6 linked regions of the Homo sapiens genome follow. Changing the gene in region 5 together with the main gene of any one other region gives a genetic interaction. Each region holds a gene or a part of one and is shown on either strand. Other genes may lie near its edges. The genes, in order: MED1, MBTPS2, MED23, METAP2, MED9 and MED24.

Region 1 (3,500 bases), about 22 Mb from region 5:
GGTACTCTGAGAATGCCCAGAGCTTGAAGAATCTCGAAGAGGGGTGCCAATGGCTGGGCAATCATCACTAGTGCTGGGAAGTTTAGAAGCTTCTTCTGCAATGTCTGAAAGGATGTCAGTTACATCTGGGCCAATGCTGTCTGAACTGGATAGTCGGACCATCCTTTGAATACTGGGTTGGGGGTGAGGTACTGGTTGTGGGTAAGTTGTTGGGGGAGTGCTACACTGGCTTGGAGCTGGAGTGATGTGTGGCGTATCCAGCGTGTCAGCTGTCATGTTGACATCAAAGATAGGGTTCTGTGAGTCAACATCCATTGAAAATAGCTCCCTCTGAAAGTCATCTTCAGTCTGGTGCTTTGGTTTCTCAGGTGGTAATCTTGATGACTTCTTTTTCTTGGTCTTGTTGCTCCCCGAGCATATTTCCATGCGGGGTGAGCCGGAAGAGGAGTTCTGCCTTTCTAAAGGGCTGCTTCCATAAAGGGTTGAGAAATCCTGGGCAGGATTATCTTTAAGAAGGTTCATGAGCATCGGGTGGTTCTTGGTGTTGCCGGCCATCGAAGAGACAGGTGGCGGCGTGTGATGAGGAGGGGTCGGACTCGAGCCAATGGTAGACCCCCCGTTCCCTGTGATTTGCAACAAACTGGTAAGAATTGGGTTCTGAGACACCTTGCTGAAGTCCTCCCCATGGCCCACCGACTCATGCCGATCTTTGATGCTCATGCTCATATTAAACAAGGTGGTAATGGGACCCCCCGGAAAGGTGTTGGTTGGTGTAGTGGTACCACTCATTGGGTTGTTGCCTGTGGTCATGCCATACCCTGGGCTGCTAGCCGGGGGCAGGTTCTTTTTCACCATGTCTTCAACTGTCTCTGCAATGAGGGACAGTGCTGGGGTGTCGGCTTGAATGGTTTCAGCTTTCCTCCGAATAGCCCTCATCGTCACAGGGATGGACATACATCTGCAAAATAAAGAAGAAAACAAAGTTAACATTGCAATAGCTGCTGAATGAGACCTGAGATTTAGATATAACATCAGAGTTTTGCAGTAAGCAGTTTTCAGGTAGGGCAAATAATCTGTAAGACAAAAATAGTTCTATCAAATACCAGAGCTTTGGGTAAATACATTCTAAAAATCTAACCCAACATAAAATTGTCAACCTCTTATGAATCACACAACAAAAGCAAACTATAAACAAGAGTCCAAATAATTGAATTTCAAACTTAACTAAAAGAAAATTGGTAATAATGGAACTCAGTAAGAAAATGCCTCCTTAGGGGCCGGGCACAGTGGCTCACGCCTGTAATCCCAGCACTTTGGGAGGCCAAGGCGGCTGGAACATGAGGTCAGGAGATCGACACCATCCTGGCCAACATGGTGAAACCCCGTCTCTACTAAAAATACAAAAATTAGCTGGGCGTGGTGGCGCGTGCCTGTAATCCCAGCTACTCGGGAGGTTGAGGCAGGAGAATTGCTTGAACAAGGGAGGCGGAGGTTGCATTGCACTGAGATCACACCACTGCACTCCAGCTTGGCAACAGAGTGAGACTCCGTCTCAAAAAAAAAAATGCCTCCTTAGGTCGGGCGCGGTGGCTCACTCCTGCAATCCCAGCACTTTGGAAGGCCGAGGAGGGTGGATCACTTCGGGTCAGGAGTTTGAGACCAGCCTGGCCAGCGGGGTGAAACCCTGTCTCTACTAAAAATACAAAAAATTAGCCAGCCGTGGCGGTGCACAGCTGTAATCCCAGCTACTCAGGAAGGGTAGACAGGAGAATCACTTGAACCCAGGAGGCAGAGATCGCAGCGAGCCAAGATCGTCCCATTGCACGCCAGCCTTGGTGACAGTGCAAGACTTCATTTCAAAGGAAAAAAGAAAATGTCGTCCTCTGGGGGGCTTCATATGGTAATTACAGGGATACATAATTTATTTTAATTAAGGAACCATTAGAAAAATCTCCGCCGGTCAGAGTGGCTCACGCCTGTAATCCCAGCACTTTGGGAGGCCGAGGCGGGTGGATCACAGGGTCAGGAGTTTTGAGACCAGCCTGGCCAACATAGTGAAACCCCATCTCTACTAAAAAAAAGAAAAAATACAAAAAATTAGCTGGGCATGGTGGCAGGTGCCTGTAATCCCAACTACTTGGGAGGCTGAGGCAGAATTGCTTGAACCCGGGAAGCAGAGGTTGCAGTGAGCTGAGATTGTGCCATGGCACTCCAGCCCAGGTGACAGTACAAGACTCCATCTCAAAAAAAAAAAAAAGAAAAGAAAAATCTCTTGACCCATTAAGTACTAAACCTTAATGACTTAGATCATCCCAAACCTACACTATTATAAAAAGTGCTATTTCTGTTATAAATCTTGTTTATTTTAAAGCAAAGCACTTTTTATTTTCCAGATAAATTTATATTCATAAACCTCAGTTTGCAAACGTTTTGCTCTAGAACATATGTCAGCAAATTTTTTTTTCTTTTTTTTTTTTTTTTTGAGACGGAGTTTTGCTCTTGTTGCCCAGGCTGGAGTGCAATGGCGCGATCTTGGCTCACTGCAACCTCCACCTCCCAGGTTCAAGTGATTCTCCTGCCTCAGCCTCTCGAGTAGCTGGGATTACAGCCATGCGCCATCACGCCCAGCTAATTCTGTATTTTTAGTAGAGACAGGGTTTCTCCATGTCAGTCAGGCTGGTCTCGAACTCCTGACCTCAGGCGATCCACCCACCTCCCAAAGTGCTGGGATTATAGGCGTGAGCCACCACACCCAGCCAGCAAATTTTTCTTTTTTTTTTTTTTTTTTTCTTTGAGACAGAGTCTCGCTCTGTTATCCAGGCTGGAGTGCAGTGGCATGATCTTGGCTTACCGCAACTTCCGCCTCCCAGGTTCAAGCAATTCTCTGCCTCAGCCTCCCAAGTAGCTGGGATTACAGAAGCCCGCCACCACGCCCAGCTAATTTTTGTATTTTTAGTAGAGATGGGGTTTCACCATCTTGGCCAGGCTGGTCTTGAACTCCTGACCTCGTGATTTACCCGCCTCAGCCTCCCAAAGTGCTAGGATTACAGGGGTGACCCCCGCACCCGGCCGCAAATTTTTCTTATAAGGCCATATAGTAATCCGTTAGGCTTTGTAGGTCTTGTTTCCTGTTCACCTACTCTGCAATATTAACTAGAAATCTGCCACAGACATGTAAATGAACAGCAGTGTTCCAATAAAATTTATTTACAAAAATAGGCTGCCAGACCCAGCTGTAGAAAAATCTCAAAAAATTACATATTAATGGTTCTGGGATGCATACTGGCTTAACTATCACGTAACAATTAAGTTGGCTTTTTGTTTGTTTTGAGATGGCATCTTGCTCTGTCTACCAGGCTGGAGTGGAGTGGCACAATCTCGGCTCACTGCAGCCTCCGCCTCCCAGGTTCAAGCAATTCTCCCGCCTCAGCCTCCTGAGTAGCTGGGATTATAGGCACCTGCCACCACACCTGGCTAATTTTTATATTTTTATTTATTTA
Region 2 (3,500 bases), on a different chromosome or scaffold from region 5:
ATCCTCGTACTGGACGCTTTCCGTCGGAATGTCCTCCATAGGAAGGGGCTCCACATTGATGTCGTGGAGCTCCACAATATCTGCCGGGATCTCCAGGTCTTGTGTGATGGAGAAATCTTCGTTGGAGGCCATGGCTGAGAGTTAGTTAGGTTAGCGGCAACGGGAAGACCGTGGGAAAAAGAACGCTGAGGGGAGTGAGGTGGGAGCTGCAGAGGAAGGGGCGAGCTGCAGAGGAAGGGGCGAGCTGCAGAGAAAGGCGCGAGCTGCAGAGAAAGGCGCGAGCTGCAGAGAAAGGCGCGAGCTGCAGAGAAAGGCGCGAGCTGCAGAGAAAGGCGCGAGACTGAGGAAAGCACGAGCCGGAAGGCGCAGGTGCTTCTGGGATAGCCAGACGCATGCGCCTAGGCAACTGGCGCGTCTGTCGGCCCCAAAAGCACGTGCACGTGCCCGCGTACGTTTGCCACCCTGCGACCCCGCCCAGCTGTTGTTTTTCCACTTTCGTAAGCAGGCTCTTTACTGATTTTTTATGTATTTCATTTTAGTTGATTTTCATGTCTTCCCCTCCTGTCCATCCCATATAACAGTATCTGCCAAAAAAGCCTACTCCTTTTATGCTTTTTTCTCTTATTTAATTGCACTAATACGACATTTAATATCAGTAATAGTTGATAGTAGAATTTGTCTTGTCCTTTAATAGGAATGCAAAGTGTTGTGCTATTATGATGTATGCAGCTATTCCTACTTTTACTAAGGATTTTTTTTTTTTTTTGAGACGGAGTCTCGCTCCGTCGCCCAGGCTGGAGTGCAGTGGCGCGCGATCTCGGCTCACTGCAACCTCCGCCTCCTGGGTTCGAGTGATTCTCCTGCTTCAGCCTCCAGAGTAGCTGGGCCGGGCACAGCAATCCCACACCTGTAATCCCAGCACTTTGGGAGGCCGAGGCAGGAGGGTCACTTGAGGTCAGGAGTTTGAGACCAGCCTAGCCAACATGGCAAAACCCCTTCTCTACTAAAAATACAAAAATTAGCTGGGCGTGGTGGCTCGTGCCTGTAATCCTAGCTACTCGGGAGGCTGAGGCAGGAGAATCGCTTCAACCTGGGAGGCAGAGGTTGCAGTGAGCCTAGATCATGCCGCTGCACTACAGCCTGGGCAACACAGCGAGACTCCATCTCAAAAGAAAAAGGGCGTTCTTTATCAACTTTCTTAATTTCTCCCATTGTAATTATTTGCCTATTTAGATTTTTTTGATTGCCTCTTGGGTTAATTTCAGCTATTTTTATTTTCTTATATTTATACAGGGTTTTGAAATTTTTTTTGTGGAGATGAGCAAACAACACTTATAATTGTTTTTATTTTCTCTGTTATCAATTGTCATTCCCCAATCTGATTGCTAATTGTCTTTAGATGCTTTTTCTCATTGTTCGACCTTTGATTTTTTTTTAAGAGCTCTTGGATTTAGCAGATCTAGTTTTGTTTTTTCTAATTTATTATTTTCTGCCTATATCCTTACTAATTACGTCATCATTTCTTAATTATTTTACAGTTCTTTTCTCACTTAAGTTTAATACTCAACTAATCTATTTCCATTTGTATTTGCATGACTGCCTAAGGCAGTGCATTTTTCTTTTAGCAAAACTTTAAACATTATCTCAGTAAAATGATTTCATCATCATAATTTTTAGATCTACTGAAATCACAGGTTTGAATTAAATTGATCCAAGGTGTGATTAAGATAAATTTCTAAATTTCAGGTAGTTTTTACTTAGTTTGCTAGTCTTCTCTTGGGAATTTACTGTGACTTTAAGTCCCATGGGCACTTGAAAAAATATTGTCTTCTGTGTTCACGGTATAGAGTTTGACATACCTATTTTTACCTTAGCCTAACTTTTTTATACTTATCTGCCATGTATTAAAGCGTGAGTCTTTTTATTACCTGTTTCTTCTTATACTTTTCCCATTTTTGTTTTGCTTTGATGGTTTGTTACTTGATACAGTAAGATTCACAACTGTTATATTTTCATTGTGGCTTATATTCCTTATTATTGTTAAATGGCCCCCAATGTCTAATATAATGCTTTTGGTCTTATTTTCTGTTCCCATTTGCATGTTATGTTCTGCTCATCATTTTACTTTCATTATTTTTGAGTAATTATTTACACAGATTTATTTTGTACATCACATATTTGGGACATGTTTTAAATACAAACTAAGGGCATCTTTCTTTCAGTAGGTGAGCTTATTTCATTTATGTTTATTGACAAAATAAATGTGTTTTGGTCTTAAATTCATTACCATGGTTTATCTTTTGATATAGGGTCTGTTTTCTTTGGTCTGTGTTTCATGCTTTCACTGTGATAACTTGAAAAGTTTATGTGTGTTTTTAGATCTTGTAGTATTTACATTTATAATCTTAAGTGATATACTCAAGCCTCTATTTCTTGATTTATCAGGTTCAGGCAGATGTCCTCTCCACTATGAAGTTGAGGAAATTAGTATTTATATTTCCCGTTTTTGTTTTTCCCACCTTCAGGTTTTTTTTGTTGTTGTTGTCGTTGTTAGTTTGAGAATTCTAACTCCACACTTGCTTAGCCTCAGTTATTCCATTAAAAGTGATGCAGGGTTGTGATGGATTTGTCGTATGTCAGTTTCACTCAGCTGGAACTGTGGTTCCATCTCCAAGGGATTCTGTTTCTCTGATTGAACTCTGACAGTGCTAGAGTTCACTACTCATCCTTTCATAACCCTTTTTTTCCATTCCTGGATACTTTTGATTTATCTCTTAGTCAATTCTTCATATTCTCCCTTGATTTGATGCAAATTTCATTCTATTTCAGCTGAGTTGACATTCTTCATAGTTTGTGATTTCATGTTGTGGACAAAACAAAGTTTTCCTCTGTTTTTAAATTTTTTAAAATTATGTTGTTTTTAGTTGGTTTTAAGGAAGCAACTGGAATGTAAATTATTTTACTCCTCTACTTTTGAAGGGGTCTTATAAACTGAAGTTATTAACCAAAAGATAAGATATTGTCATTTGTGATATATTTTCCAAAAAGCACTAACCATAGAAAATCAAAACCAAAACCACAGATGAATATTAAAACAAAATTAAGTCTGTTACCTGCACAAAATATCCTTAGCTGCTGGACTGGCGATATAAGTTGCAAATGAGTGGTGAACAGATCAACAAATGCTCCAGGATAAATAATGAAGAGAAAAATCCCAAAGCCATTAAATCGAACTTGTTCCCTAAGAAATCACATAAGAAAAAGGAGTTTACTAATACTATTATATTTATCAAATTAATAGTGTACATAATCTTAAAACTTTTCACTGTAATTTGAATTCTTGCTTAAAAAACAGAAAGTCTCTCTGAACAGCCAAAAAAATTATATCTATACTATATATAATCTTAATTTTATAATAATGTACAGATTTGGTTATCTGTGAAATTGAATTTTGCAAAATAGGGCATACTGAAATAGACATAACTTCAAAATTTTTAGAA
Region 3 (3,500 bases), on a different chromosome or scaffold from region 5:
CAGGGTATATTTAGATACTAGAATAACATGATAAACTATAAACTATCTTTCATTAAATATTTACTTCTTCAGATTATGAAGCAACAATTTAGCATCACATATCTTATAATCTAGGTTGAAGACTGTCAGATGGACTAAAAGTGCCATTATATTTAGCAACATACCTTATCATATGGCAAAAGGCCTTTCAAAGGAAAACGAAGAGTAGCAGGATCCAGTTTCCATGAATTACAAATGGCACCCGAATTATTTACAACTGGCAGAAGACTACAGCGACCTGTATGTATTACAAAAATGTTTTTAAGTAAATGTGAACACAGCAGTACTTCATTCACTTCACAAATATTTAATGAACATATATGCTGAAATAGGCATTGGTTTGGTTTAAAAATGGCTTATAAAAATGTTTCAATGAGACTGAAGGTTGGGAATTTTATTTTTAGTTCAGATAGTTGAAGATCAATTTGCACAGGCTTTCCAAAGTTGAAAATATCGCATTTTGTCTAAATGTCTAGGGCAGAGATCAGCCAACTATAATCCATGGGCCAAATCCAGCCTGGCACCTGTTTTTGTAAAGTTTTATTGGAACACCACTGCTTTTGCAGTCCAATGGCAGAGCTGAGTAGCTGCAACAGATTCTGTAGCCTACGAAGCTTAAAATATTTACTACATGGCCCTTTACAGGAAAAAGTTTAAGACCACTAGTCCAGTGTCAACATGATTAAACTTTATGCACGATATTCCTAGAGGCCTTAGATGTCACATATGACTATCAGCTCATACATCCAACTGCCTAACAAATATCGTCACTTGGATGTCCTACAAGCACCTCAAGCTTAACATGTCTCAAATTCATCATCCTTCTCCAACCTACTTTGCTTCCATAATTCACTACATGATATCAATATCCACTCAGTTACAAAAGCTAGAAACCTGATAATTATCTGTCTAGTGTCTATTTAGATTGTATTTGTATTTTCAGTATCTAGAATAGCACCTGGCTTATAGGAAGTACTCAATATTTGATCACTGAATAAACAATGGTCTATATTTCCACACAGTTGAGGTCACCATGATTTCTAGAAATAATTAAAGAGGATATGTGGGCACTGCAAAAATTGCCAAATCACATGGTTATTTTTAAAAGAAAGTTCAGAGACTCTAACAAAACATGGGAAAATGCGAAAGGAAAAGCAAAAGTGGGAATTAGAATGGGCTGAGTGAGCCTGACACTTTCACGTTCTGTAGCCACAGAGGGACAGGTCTGTTCAGACTTCCAGCTGCCTAGAAATTCCATGGTGCTTTACTAGCTGTATTAAAATGTCTTTCTAATCACCAAGAAACCCACTTCTAGAATGGTTTTAAATGAAGCTTAAACCCATTCCAGAGAGTTTCTTTTTCCTCCCTGTACTTGGCACACAGAGTAAGTGAAAACAAGGGAAAGGCATTATATTAAGCTCTTAGAGAGTCACCAAAATGACAAGCCACCAAGGCACATATTAAGAGAACATCCCTCAGCTTTGTTCAATAATTAGATTACTAAAAATCAGGTACTATTTGGCATATTTAAAATTATAATCCTACCACAAATGGAGTTTATCCTTGCTGTGGGCCTGAAGGTATCCACAAAGTCTGATACTAGGTTTCCAAGTAACTAAAGAGAGAAAGAAAGAGGGAAGTCAAATAAATACGTACAAAAGGAAAATTGAGACTGCCCCTGAAATATATGAACATTTATATAAAATGAGATAATATATGTAAAGATTGCACATGATAACTGTTTAAAGGTTAGCTCCCTTTTGCTTCCTTCTAAAAAATCACTCGCCAGTTCATCTGTCCCTTAATTAAACCAAGTCACACCACCATATCCTTAGCTATTTGATGAAGCTGATCATATTTTATTACATGGCATATAAATTCTCAATGGAAATGGAAATGAAAGAAATACATCATGATTAAAAATATACATATTATCTAAGGATAAAAGTCATCATTAAAAAAATAAGCACACAAAAATAAGATTAATATAACTGTTTTTTATAAAATACCCTTTTTTGTGTGTGAGACAGGGTCTCGTCCTTTTGCCGAAGCTAGAGTACAGTGGTGTGATCACAGCTCACTGCAGCCTCAAACTCCTGGTTTCAAGTAATCCTCCCACCTCAGCTCCTGAGTAGCTGGGGCTATAGGCATGTGCTACTATGCCTGGCTAATATGTGTGCGTGTGTTTTTTAATGTTTTGCAGAGACAGAGTCTTGTTATGTTACCCAGGTTGGGTCTTGAACTCTTGTCCTCAAATCATCTTCCCACCTTTGCCTCCCAAAGTGCTGTGAGCCACGAAGCCCAGCCGAAAATTTTTATTAAAAATTCAGGAAATATAAAATTTACCCAGTGTGGAAGTTTGCCTTCAGGATACAGTTTCCTGATCTCAGTGACTGCAAAATAGGCTGGTAATAAGCAGGCATTTCTTTCCAAGATATATGCTATAACCTAAGAAAAACAAAAAGGCCACATCATTCTTGACTAGTCCCACATATAAGCCCTTTATTTTATTTATTATCATTATTTTTTTTTTTTTTTGAGACAGGGTCTTGCTCTGTTGCCCAGGCTTGGAGTGCAGTGGCGTAATCATGGCTCACTACATCTTCAACCTCTGGGGCTCCAGTGGTGTTCCCACCTCAGCCTCCAGAGTAGCTGGGACTATAGGTGTATGCCAGCAGGCCCGGCTAACTTTTTAATTTTTTGTAAAGACAGGGTCTCCCCAGGATGTCCTGGCTGGTCTCTAACAATGGGCTTAAATGAGCCTCCCGCCTTGGCCTCCCAAAGCACTGGGATTACAGACATGCGCCACTGCATCTGGCCCATGTGAGCGTTTTAAACACTACAATGACAATGACAACAAAAAAGACATTAAAAAGTAGAGATGTTACTTTCTGGAGAGATGTTGGTCAAAGGACAAAATTTCACTTTGACAAGAGGAATAAGTTCAAGAGACCTACTGGACATTATGGTGACTATGGTTAATAACGATATAGTGTATACTTCAAAATTGCTAAGAGAGTAGATTTTAAGTGTTATCATTATAAAAAAATAAGTATATATAATATATATACACACACACAGACAATTGCTACTTGTCAATTAAAATAAAATATAGAGATATTATTTAATGGATTTATTGGGTTTCAACTGTAGCAAAGAATACATTTATATGTAAAAAATATCTAAAAATAAAGATTAATAAACAATGGAATGGATTGTTCATGGTTAGTAAATAACCTTGCACATGCTTTAAATATTGGCACACTTAAACAGGAGTGCAACAGACCAACGTAACAATTCTTGCGATACTAGTTACAAAGTACAAAGATCTTTTAAGTGGTCCATATGCTAAGGTCTTGTAATGTTTAAGCTATTTTAATTTCTATTTCATTGTTTTCATAATTTAAAACCATGAATTAAAATTTAAAATGTCCTTTTGAAATATAAGGGAACTAGCATCT
Region 4 (3,500 bases), on a different chromosome or scaffold from region 5:
AAAGGAAAAAGCAAATAAAAACATGAAAAGATGCTCAATATCATTAGGGAAGTGCATATTAAAACCACAATGACAAAGCACTACATACCCATTATCAAAGACTAAAATTTTAAAACAAATACCAAGTCCTTACAAGGATACGAACAACCTGAAACTCTCAACCATTGCTAAGAGGAATGCAAAACAGCATAGCCACTTTGGAAACCAGACAGCTTCTTAGGAGTTTAAACACATACTTACCATATGACAGGCAACCCAGTCCTATTTACTCAAGAGAAATGAAAACATATCTACACATAGACCCATATGCAAATGTTCATAGTAACTTCGTTCACAACAGACCAAAACTGTAAACACCCCAAATATTGTTCAATGTAAAAGGGTAAAACATATTAGGAATACTACTTGCAATAAAAAGGAATGTGCTATTGATAAATGCACAACTCGATGACTGTCAAAAGTATTATGCTAAGTAAAACAAGCCAAACACAAAAAACTACATACCGAATAATTCCATTTATAGGATACTCCAGGAAAGGCCAAAACTAGGGTCAGAAAACGTATCAGTGATTGCTAAGGGTTAGGTATAGTGCAAGAGAACCAACTACAAGAGACACAACTTTTTTCTGGAGATGGAAATGTTAAATGGAAATAGTCTGTATCTTCCGTCGTGGTAGTAGTTACACAATTGCATACTTTGTCAAAACTCACCAAACTATACACTTAAAAAGGATGACTATTGGGGCCAGGTATGGTGGCTCACGCCTGTAATCCCAGCACTTTGGGAGGCTGAGGCGGGCGGATCACTTGAGGCCAGGAGTTCGAGACCAGCCTGGCCAACATGGTGAAACCCTGTCTCTACTAAAAATACAAAAATTAGCTGGGAGTGGTGGCGGGCACCTGTAATCCCAGCCACTCAGGAGGCTGAGGCAGGAGAATCGCTGGAACCCGGAAGGCAGAGGTTGCAGTGAGCTGAGATCGTGCCACTGCACTGCAGCCTGGACAAGAGTGAGACTCCGTCTCAAAAAAAAAAAAAAAGAGTGGTGACTATTATTTTAGGGAAATTATATGTTAATGAGCCTGACTCAAAATGTATTGAATGAATTACCTCCAGCACACTGTCAGATGACCACAGGATCAACTTTTTATACCAATACCACAGTTTCCAATTCAGCACATCTAAAATTAAACTTAGTACCCTCTTCTTTGCCTGCAAACCTCTCCCCCAATGTCTAACTGGCTCTTTCCCAACTTCACTATTTCAGTCAACAGCACCAACATTCTGTCACCCAAGTGCAAACTCCCAGAGTCCACTAATGCCTTACTCCTGCTCCCAGAATGCAAGTCTCCAAGTCTTTTGAATTCTGCTTCCACACTACTGTTCACTGGATCCTTCCTCTCCATGCCTATTTATGACTATCAGTTTACATCTTCATTACCATATGCCTGGGCTATTTCTAAGAGGCCTCCAAAATGATCTCCTCCTTGCCTTTCCTACACACTTCCTCTCCTCTAAACAACCCTGTATACAGGTAAAGCCTAAATTATTATTTCATAACATTCCTTTTTTGTTAAGAGACAGGGTCTTACTATGTTACCCAGGTTGGAGTGCAGTGGCCAGTCACAGGTGTTTTCGTAGCATACTGAAGCCCCCTGGACTCAAAGATCCTCCCATCCCAGCCTCCCAAGTAGCTGGGATTACAGGCACCAGCCACTGTGCTTGGCTCATAACATTTCTTAAAAATCCTCTAAGGCTCCCTCAATCTATCACCTCATATGGCAAGCTTGTATTACCACAATGCTTCAAATGTTTTCTCAGCATTACCCCAACCCAAAATAGTTCCTTTGTTTGGTTTTACTCAAGTTCTATTCCTTCCAATGAGCCTTCCTTCGGCATTCAGCCCACACTTATACCACCAAATTTCAATAAATTTTATTACAGGTACCCAAATACCTTTTCACTTCTAGGTTTTGTCTGTCTACCACATCCTTAGTTTTCTTTATTTTTTCTTATTTTTTGAGACAGAGTTTCACTTTTGTTGCCCAGGCTAAAGTGCAATGGCGCAACCTCCACTGACAGCAACCTCCACCTCCTGGGTTCAAGCAATTTTCCTGCCTCAGCCTCCCGAGTAGCTGGGATTACAGGCACCCACCACCACACCTGGCTAATTTTTTGTATTTTTAGTAGAGATGGGGTTTCACCATGTTGGTAAGGCTGGTTTTGAACTCCTGACCTCAGGTGATCCACCCACCTCAGCCTCCCAAAATGCTGGGATTACAGGCGAGAGCTAACACACCTGGTCTAGTTTTCCATTAGGAGAAAGATCTTGAAACACTAGCTTTCCATTCCCTCAAAGACCTAACAACAGGTAAGTAGTATTGACTGACTCTGATTACTGAAATAACTACAAATATTCCTAAAATCTTCTTTAATACATTGAAGATTTCCAACCTGATGGGCAACTTTGTAGAGATGTAACAGAACAAGATAACACTTCAAGATTAGCACTGTGATTTTTTTTGGGGGGTGGGGGGAGGTGGACGGGTATAGACATAGGGTCTCACTATGTTGCCCAGGCTTGTCTGGATTACAGGCATAAGCCACCACACCCAGCCAATATTTTTTAACTAGCCTGACAGGCCCAGGAAGCATTATGATACCATATACACAGTGGGTCTATAGCAATCTATTATATTGCCTTGAATTTACAAAACATTTTCTTGTGAAGAGCTCAAAATAAGTTCATAATCTAAAGCATAAGCCAATGTAGAACAGAGGTTTAAGGAAGAGGAAAAGCTAGTAATTCCCTTGAATCTTGGCACTTTTTTCCACCAAATGTTCACTATAAGCTTCTTGAAGGCAGAGAACATACCACTCTAAAGGAAAACAACTACTCTACATTACCCTAACACAATAATTACAGCCCCAACTAATGGTTAAAGACCTAACCCCAGGCTGGTGGTGCTTGAGGGGGAGCAGATGTTCTCAGTAGTAGGCAGCTACAAATAAAAAGAATGGGAAAGCCCCATTTTTCCTCCGCCAAAAGAGGCTGGAAAAAAGTTAAGTTTTCTTACCTGTCTCTTCCTTCACTGTTTTACTGATAACATCAATTAGCAGTTGCTGTCTTTAAAAAAATCTTATTGTACCCAAACACCCAGAAGGAGCTAGGGTCAAGGAATTTATAATAAAACTTAGTGCACTCCTATACGATTCTTTCAGAATGAAAAGAGTTAATTTTGGTATAGAGAGTAAAAGGAACAGGCCGGACACAGTAGCTCAAACCTGTAATCCCAGCACCTTGGGAGGCTGAGGTGGGCAGATTACTTGAGGTCAGGAGTTCAAGACCAACCTGGCAAAACCCCATTTCTACTAAAGATACAAAAAAATTAGTTGGGCATGGTGGCAGGCGCCTGTAATCCCAGCTACTCGGGAGGCTGAGGCAGGAGAATTGCTTGAGCTCGGGAGGTCGCAGTGATCCGAGATCACGCCACTGCACTCC
Region 5 (3,361 bases):
CGGTTCAAGCAATTCTCCTGCCTCAGCCTCCTGAGTAGCTGGGATTACAGGCGCATGCCAACACGCCCGGATAATTTTTGTATTTTTAGTAGAGACAGGGTTTCACCATGTTGGCCAGGCTGGTCTTGAACTCCTGACCTCAGGTGATCCACCTGCCTCGGCCTCCCAAAGTGCTGGGATTACAGGCATGAGCCACCACACTCAGCTTCCTATACGTTTTTTAAAAGTTAGTAAGTGGATGAGCTTTTGAAAACAAGTGGTTGAGACCAAAACTAAAAGGCAATTCAGTAAGCTGTTCTGAAAGTAAGCCATTGAGGCATAAGAGGGAAAAACTGTCAATGATCATTAATTTTTTCAAATAAATGTTCATCCGTAGTGGGAAATTTCAACCCAGATGGTGCTAATTCATGTTTACTATTCATCATTTCTCTGCTTACGCAGGCAGAATATCCATCTTTCCTGGCGATCCATCAGTTACGTCTCACACCTTGCAAATCAGATGGCCACCATGGCCAGCTCAGTATTTACCAACAGCTCTAAACTCAGAGGGAGGGTATGGAGAATCAATCACTTCTTCCAGGAAATGAGAGGCCAGGAAATGATGCCCTCAACTGAGAGACACCATTAACAGTATACCTTATCGCAGATTCTAGAGAGGATGAACTGGTATTCATGAGAACTAAAAATCCTTTGGAAGGAAGCAAATAGGGAACGTCTTTTATTTTAATTCTTTGAAGTCTCAGCTCTGATCCACAAATGTGGACAGAAACCATCTGCACTTCTGAAATCCTTCTACTCGGATGGCATGCGTGTTAACATACCGTTACGAATTTAAGTCCCAAGGAAGTTTTAAAATTAAAATATAGTTTTTAAAAAAACCGACTCACATGAGTCTCAAAGGACATGGTAAAACAAACAAAAAAGTACTTAAAATAGAAATGTGGATGACAGATAATCCCATTCTTGAAGCAAACATAACCTGGCCCAAAAGAAAATTTAGTTCTGAAAGTTGAAAGTGGGTCATGTTTAAGATGCTCATCTCTGAAAACCCCCAAATAGCAAGGGTTGCGTGTTCTTTGGTGAACTTTCAGGAAAGGAGACAGTCTTCAGATAATAAAAAAGGAGCTGTAAGACAAGCCGCCTGGAGGGCAGCTGAGCCAAAAGGGGCCATGCAGCCCACAGGGAGGCCCCTCTGCAAGCCCAACTGCCCTAGTTGGTGGAGGTAAATAGCATGGAACTCCTGGAGTGAAGAGAACATGCTATTCAGAAGTGGGCATCTGCTAAGCCAGGATGACTGTGAAATATTCAAGCCAAAAGAAAAGGGACAGGACCAAATACCGAGTGAATAAAAGCAGAAAGCTCTAAGTGGGCCTACCTTTGTGTTCAAGGTTAGTCATCGGCCAACTATAGAAGGAATGAAAAAAGCCACTAGGTCAAGGAGGATGAACATCGTACAAACAAGGCAAGGTCAGAGCACTTTGGTCCCAACTACTGTGGTACTGTGGTTTCTTTTTTTCTTTTTTTTTTTTGAGACAGAGTTTTACTCGTTGCCCAGGCTGGAGTGCAATGGTGCGATCTTGGCTCACTGCAACCTCCGCCTCCCGGGTTCAAGTGATTCTCCTGCCTCGGCCTCCTGAGTAGCTGGGATTACAGGCATGCGCTACCACGCCCGGCTAATTTTGTATTTTTAGTAGAGATGGTGTTTCTCCACGTTGGCCAGGCTGGTCTCGAACTCCCGACCTCAGGTGATCCGCCCACCTCAACCTCCCAAAGTGCTGGGATTACAGGCGTAAGCCACCGCACCCAGCCCCCTACTATGGTTTTTTTAAAGAGTGGACAAAAATACTACCGCCAGGGGTGATCCTCTGAGCATCCTTCCCACGTCTGACAGACAGTTGTATCCGTGTCACCAGACTCAAAGGCAAACATCACAGGGTTTTAGGCAGGTGTCTGAGAATCATGCCCTGATTTTCTTTGTTCTTCTTTTTAGCATGGATGCTTTAGTACAGATGCAAACTGGCCAATAACTCTGCTAGAACCACTGACACAGACTTCCTCCCAAATCTGACAGTCATTTCTTTTGACCTTTTGGTGGCATCTGACTCAGTTTCCCATTTCTTCTTCCTCACAACTTCCATGCACTGTGCCTCACACTCCACTCTGTCCCAGCTGCCTTGCCCTCAGACCAGCCCTTACCAGTCCATTCCTCTGCCCACAGGCTCTCCTCGCACGGTACTAACTCCAGTGGCTTTCATTTTTCTAAGATCACTTTTTTAAAAAATGACAGTAATAGGTACTTGAGGGAAAAAATTCAAAAATGAGACAACCAAGGCTTAGAAAAGGGAAATCTCATTAACCCCTTGTTCCAGAGATAACCTCTGCTAACATGTGGTGTCCACTGTTTCAGATGGCTTTGAAATGTACAACAGCATACAAAACACACAAACTTTTCTTATTTGTTCTGACAGAAATGTGACCATCCATAGTTCTCATTCTTGCTTTTTCTACTTAACAAGGCACCTCAGATGTCCTTCCATGTTAACACATATACAATTAGACAGCGAAATTACCCTGGCTATTCATGGGTGGTTGTACTGTACTAGAATGACAGTGAACATCTTGTACTTATACCCTTATGTACTTGTGTGTCCGGAATTGGTGGGTTCTTGGTCTCACTGACTTCAAGAATGAGGCCACGGACCCTCACAGTGAGTGTTACAGCTCTTAAGGTGGCGCGTCTGAAGTCTGTCCCTTCTGATGTTCAGATGTGTTCGGAGTTTCTTCCTTCTGGTGGGTTCGTGGTCTCGCTGGCTCAGGAGGGAAGCTGCAGACCTTCGCGGTGTGCGTTACAGCTCTTAAGGCAGCATGTCTGGAGTTGTTCGTTCCTCCCGGTGGGCTCGTGGTCTCGCTGGGCTCAGGAGTGAAGCTGCAGATCTTCGCGGTGAGTGTTACAGCTCATAAAAGCAGCGTGGACCCAAAGAGTGAGCAGTGGCAAGATTTATTGCAAAGAGTGAAAGAACAAAGCTTCCACAGCATGGAAGGGGACCCAAGCGGGTTGCCACTGCTGGCTCCGGCAGCCTGCTTTTATTCTCTTATCTGGCCCCACCCACATCCTGCTGATTGGTAGAGCCGAGTGGCCTGTTTTGTCACGGCGCTGATTGGTGCATTTACAATCCCTGAGCTAGATACAAAGGTTCTCCCCGTCCCCATCAGATTAGTTAGATACAGTTTGGACACACAGGTTCTCCAAGGCCCCACCAGAGCAGCTAGATACAGAGTGTCGATTGGTGCATTCACAAACCTTGAGCTAAACACAGGGTGCTGATTGGTGTGTTTACAAACCTTGAGCTAGATACAGAGT
Region 6 (3,500 bases), about 23 Mb from region 5:
CCTCAGCCTCCTGAGTAGCTGGAATTACAGGTGCATACCATCGCGCCTGATTAATTTTTGTATTTTTAGTAGAGATGGGGTTTCACCACGTTGGCCAGGCTGGTCTCAAACTCCTGACCTCGTGATCCACCCGCCTTGGCCTCCCAAATGCTGGGATTACAGGTGTGAGCCACCGCAGCCGGCCTATCATTAGTCTTAAATGCTCTGAAAGCACATTTAAGATTAAAGGAAGATTCAGGATTTTTATTTATTTATTTATTTTTTTTTTGAGACAAGGTCTCACTCTATCGCCCAGGCTGGGGTGCAGTGGCATGATTTCGCCTCACCACAATCTCCGCCTCCTGGGTTCAAGCAATTCTCGTGCCTCAGCCTCCAGAGTAGCTGAGATTACAGGCACACACCACCACGCCCAGCTGATTTTTGTATTTTTAGTAGACATGGGGTTTTGCCATGTTGGGCAGGCTGGTCTTGAACTCCTGGCCTCCAAGTAATCCACCCGCCTCCAGCCTAGGATTTTTACTTTTATCACAAAGATGGGTATGAGTTAAAGAGCAGTGACTAAGAGTGTAAAACTCTGGTCTGAAGACATCTGTGCTTTCTTTTCCTTCCTGTTCCCTGTACCCCCAGGCACGGTCCCAGTCACTTGCAGCCCAAACTTTCGACAGGAGGTTGAAAGGCACGCAGCAGCCCCACCGTAACAAGAGAGAGGTCAAGGGGCTCTTGGGGTAGCACAGGTGCGTTCACACTTACCGCTTAGCCATAAGGTTGTTGACGCTGGCCTCAGACAGAAGCCCCTGCTTGCCACATTCTTGGAGCAGGAAGTTTGTACAGTCACAGCTGTGAGGGAGAAAGATGCTGAGGGAACTGGGCACCTGGATAGGATGGTGAGGGGTGGGAGTGGCAGGTCCCTGAGCAGCATCCTCCCTCTTTCAGGATGAGGAAAATCTGGAGTGCCTGAGGGACGGTAGAGGGGCTCTGGGGACTTGGCAACTGTGGGCTCCTATTTCCTGCCCCTGCCAAGGGGAGTGAACAAGGAGACAGAGTCCCCTGAGGCTTCTCTGGCACAGAGATCAGGGGAAGAGCCCAGAACGCCTTCCAGTAGGGCGGGGGTGACCAGGGGAGCTCATACTTGCAGCGCTGGTCAGCTTTGTCCAACAAGGGGGTGAGCTTCAGCAGGAACTCAAAAGCACAGTTGACATCCTCAGTGAAGTCCTAGAAAGAGGCAGAAGTGTCCATCTGGTTTCCAGGGCCACCAGGCCCTGATCATCTCAGGCAACCTTGTCTGCTGGAGGCATCGGCCTGAGTTGCCTGGCTGCTTTCTGCCTGGAGCCTGGGTGTATGTTGTGGGTGCACGCAGACGCTGAAGCACACACACTGGCTGAAGCACACGTACACGCTGAAGCACACACACGCTGAAACACACACACTGAAGCACGCACACACTGAAGCACACGCACATGCTGAAGCACACGCACATGCTGAAGCATGCACATTGTGAAGCACGTGCACGCTGAGGTGTACACTCACATCCGGCTCTCTTCCAGGCATGAGAACACTGCCCAGCTGGGGCCTGAAGGACCCTCCCCTTTGCCCTTATTTCTGCTCCCATGCCTCCATCTCAATCCCCAACTCACCTTGTCTCCATGAGAGTACTTCTTCAACTTCACCAAAACCTGTGGAATCTAGGGGGTGAGGCAGGGGGAAAAACAGGAAGATCCATTTCTTTTCTCTTTCATCTACCCCTGAAGGCATCCCCCCGAACCCCTGCTCCAGGAAGAGAGACAGGAACACTCCTACCCTGGGAGTGAGAGCACACTTAGTGCTAAATGAGAAAGCCAATAGGTGCCCAGGCCCCTGATGCCCCCAGGCCTAGGCACAGGACACAAGCACCCTGCACCTCCGCTAGCTCAACAGAAAAAGATGCCATAAGCAAAAGTGGATCCCCAGCTTCAAGGAGGACTGGGGCCCCTTTCCCTGGCTCCCTTTACTGCCCTGCACCTATCTGTCTGATGACCAAGCTAAACTGCACCTCTGTGGTAAGAAACAACGGAGTCTGCCAAATGGGCTAAATATAGCCCTGGCACTTTCAGAGAAAATGATCAATGGGAACTTGCACTGGAATACCTGGCAGGCTGGGCCCAGTGCCCGCAGGGAGGAACACAGGGCAAAGGTCCAGGGTGCCACTGGTCTTGCTAAGAACCATTCCTAGACTGGCTCTGCCCCTCCCACGTCCCCAGTACCTTGAGGAAAGTGAAAGCTGTCCACTTGAGCTCCTCCGTACCCTCGGGAGACTCAATGAGCCCCACGAAGCAAGCTTTCCAGATCTCCAGGACAAAAAGTGGGGTGGGGATATGCTGTGGGAAGAGCCAAGGATGAGGCCTAAGAGGGTGCCCATACCCCGTCACCCTTCTGTGGACTCTGAGGATTTGGCTGGGTCAGAGACTGCATGGCAGAGTCACTGCTCAGCTATGTGCTGAGAACCAGGGGAGTAAGGTCCAATGACAGAAGTGTGCACGACTGGCACCCACTTTCCATCATGGAGCAGGAGAAACCCCACTTCTCCCAGGGAGAACCAGAAGAATCCTCCCTCCTGCCCCCAACAGGCTGGCCTGCCTTGGAGAAGGGAGAGCCACTCGGCCCCTCCCACCTGCATGCGCTTCACCATCGTCAGCTGCTCCACCAGGGACTGCGTCTCGCCTGTCAGGTTCATGGTGCCCTCGAGCAGGATCACGGCGTGGACAGTGGGGAAGCCGGTCTTGTGCATCTGCTCCGCATGCACAGACAGCATCGTGGGGATGCTGAGGGGTCACAAACACAGGGGACGGTGTTTGGGGGGCCAAAGGTGAAGGCGGAGAGGATGGCACGGGTGCCACATCTTCCTACCCCAGGGCGTGTCCTCCCTCTCCCTTCTCCACCATCCCCCAGGGAGCCGGTACCTCCTAATGAGGGTGCCACACTGCTCGGCCTGACTCCGGAGCTGCGGGTTGCTGAGATTGGCCAGGATCTCTCCAAGTTTCAAGAGAGAATGCTCGATGGCAGTCCAAGAAGCTGGCAGAGGGAAGGAAGTACAGAAACATGATGGGAAACAGGAGAGAAGGAGCACCTGGCCCTGAACTCCTCGATTTTGGCACTCCCTCCGGCACACGAAACCACACAGGAAGGCTTCCCCTGAGGACAACAGGGAGGGAGGGGCCTGAGGGCAGCATGCACTGTTTCCAGAAGGGGGGTGGGCACCTAGAGCTGGAAACCCCAGAGACCATTCCCAAAAGCCTGATTTCCAGGGGACACAGCCAGCTGACTTCAGAAGGTATGGCATCACACAGGCTCAGGAGAGAGAGGCAGAGGGAGGCCAGAATCCAGTGGCTGGAACAGGGAGGGCGGCCACAAATCACTCGAGGAGTGAGCGGATCCCAAAGTCCAGTCTTGCAGAGGCTGTCACTCTCCTCTGGGGGAACTGGGTCCCTAAATGGCTTTCTCATTCTCAACCACTCCCTCATCTA

What was found.
Region 1: changes in MED9 (region 5) and MED1 together harm fitness more than expected from each alone (negative genetic interaction), as found in Homo sapiens cells (one large-scale study listed by BioGRID).
Region 2: changes in MED9 (region 5) and MBTPS2 together harm fitness more than expected from each alone (negative genetic interaction), as found in Homo sapiens cells (one large-scale study listed by BioGRID).
Region 3: changes in MED9 (region 5) and MED23 together harm fitness more than expected from each alone (negative genetic interaction), as found in Homo sapiens cells (one large-scale study listed by BioGRID).
Region 4: changes in MED9 (region 5) and METAP2 together harm fitness more than expected from each alone (negative genetic interaction), as found in Homo sapiens cells (one large-scale study listed by BioGRID).
Region 6: changes in MED9 (region 5) and MED24 together harm fitness more than expected from each alone (negative genetic interaction), as found in Homo sapiens cells (one large-scale study listed by BioGRID).

Annotation. Positions count from the first base shown.
Region 1 is NC_000017.11:39,409,764-39,413,263, forward strand, and holds part of MED1 (mediator of RNA polymerase II transcription subunit 1), read right to left. Parts: intron 959-3,500; coding exon 1-958. UniProt on the Homo sapiens protein: Component of the Mediator complex, a coactivator involved in the regulated transcription of nearly all RNA polymerase II-dependent genes.
Region 2 is NC_000023.11:21,853,117-21,856,616, reverse strand, and holds part of MBTPS2 (membrane-bound transcription factor site-2 protease), read right to left. Parts: intron 3,242-3,500; coding exon 3,114-3,241; intron 631-3,113; exon of another isoform or gene 133-630; coding exon of another isoform or gene 1-132. Other genes in the region: transcription factor YY2, read right to left, coding at 1-132. UniProt on the Homo sapiens protein: Zinc metalloprotease that mediates intramembrane proteolysis of proteins such as ATF6, ATF6B, SREBF1/SREBP1 and SREBF2/SREBP2.
Region 3 is NC_000006.12:131,618,243-131,621,742, forward strand, and holds part of MED23 (mediator of RNA polymerase II transcription subunit 23), read right to left. Parts: intron 2,488-3,500; coding exon 2,386-2,487; intron 1,655-2,385; coding exon 1,585-1,654; intron 278-1,584; coding exon 165-277; intron 1-164. UniProt on the Homo sapiens protein: Required for transcriptional activation subsequent to the assembly of the pre-initiation complex. Component of the Mediator complex, a coactivator involved in the regulated transcription of nearly all RNA polymerase II-dependent genes.
Region 4 is NC_000012.12:95,477,152-95,480,651, reverse strand, and holds part of METAP2 (methionine aminopeptidase 2), read right to left. Parts: intron 1-3,500. UniProt on the Homo sapiens protein: Cotranslationally removes the N-terminal methionine from nascent proteins. The N-terminal methionine is often cleaved when the second residue in the primary sequence is small and uncharged (Met-Ala-, Cys, Gly, Pro, Ser, Thr, or Val).
Region 5 is NC_000017.11:17,487,000-17,490,360, reverse strand, and holds part of MED9 (mediator of RNA polymerase II transcription subunit 9), read right to left. Parts: intron 1-3,361.
Region 6 is NC_000017.11:40,030,409-40,033,908, forward strand, and holds part of MED24 (mediator of RNA polymerase II transcription subunit 24), read right to left. Parts: intron 3,049-3,500; coding exon 2,937-3,048; intron 2,799-2,936; coding exon 2,648-2,798; intron 2,355-2,647; coding exon 2,241-2,354; intron 1,683-2,240; coding exon 1,635-1,682; intron 1,213-1,634; coding exon 1,130-1,212; intron 838-1,129; coding exon 751-837; intron 1-750. UniProt on the Homo sapiens protein: Component of the Mediator complex, a coactivator involved in the regulated transcription of nearly all RNA polymerase II-dependent genes.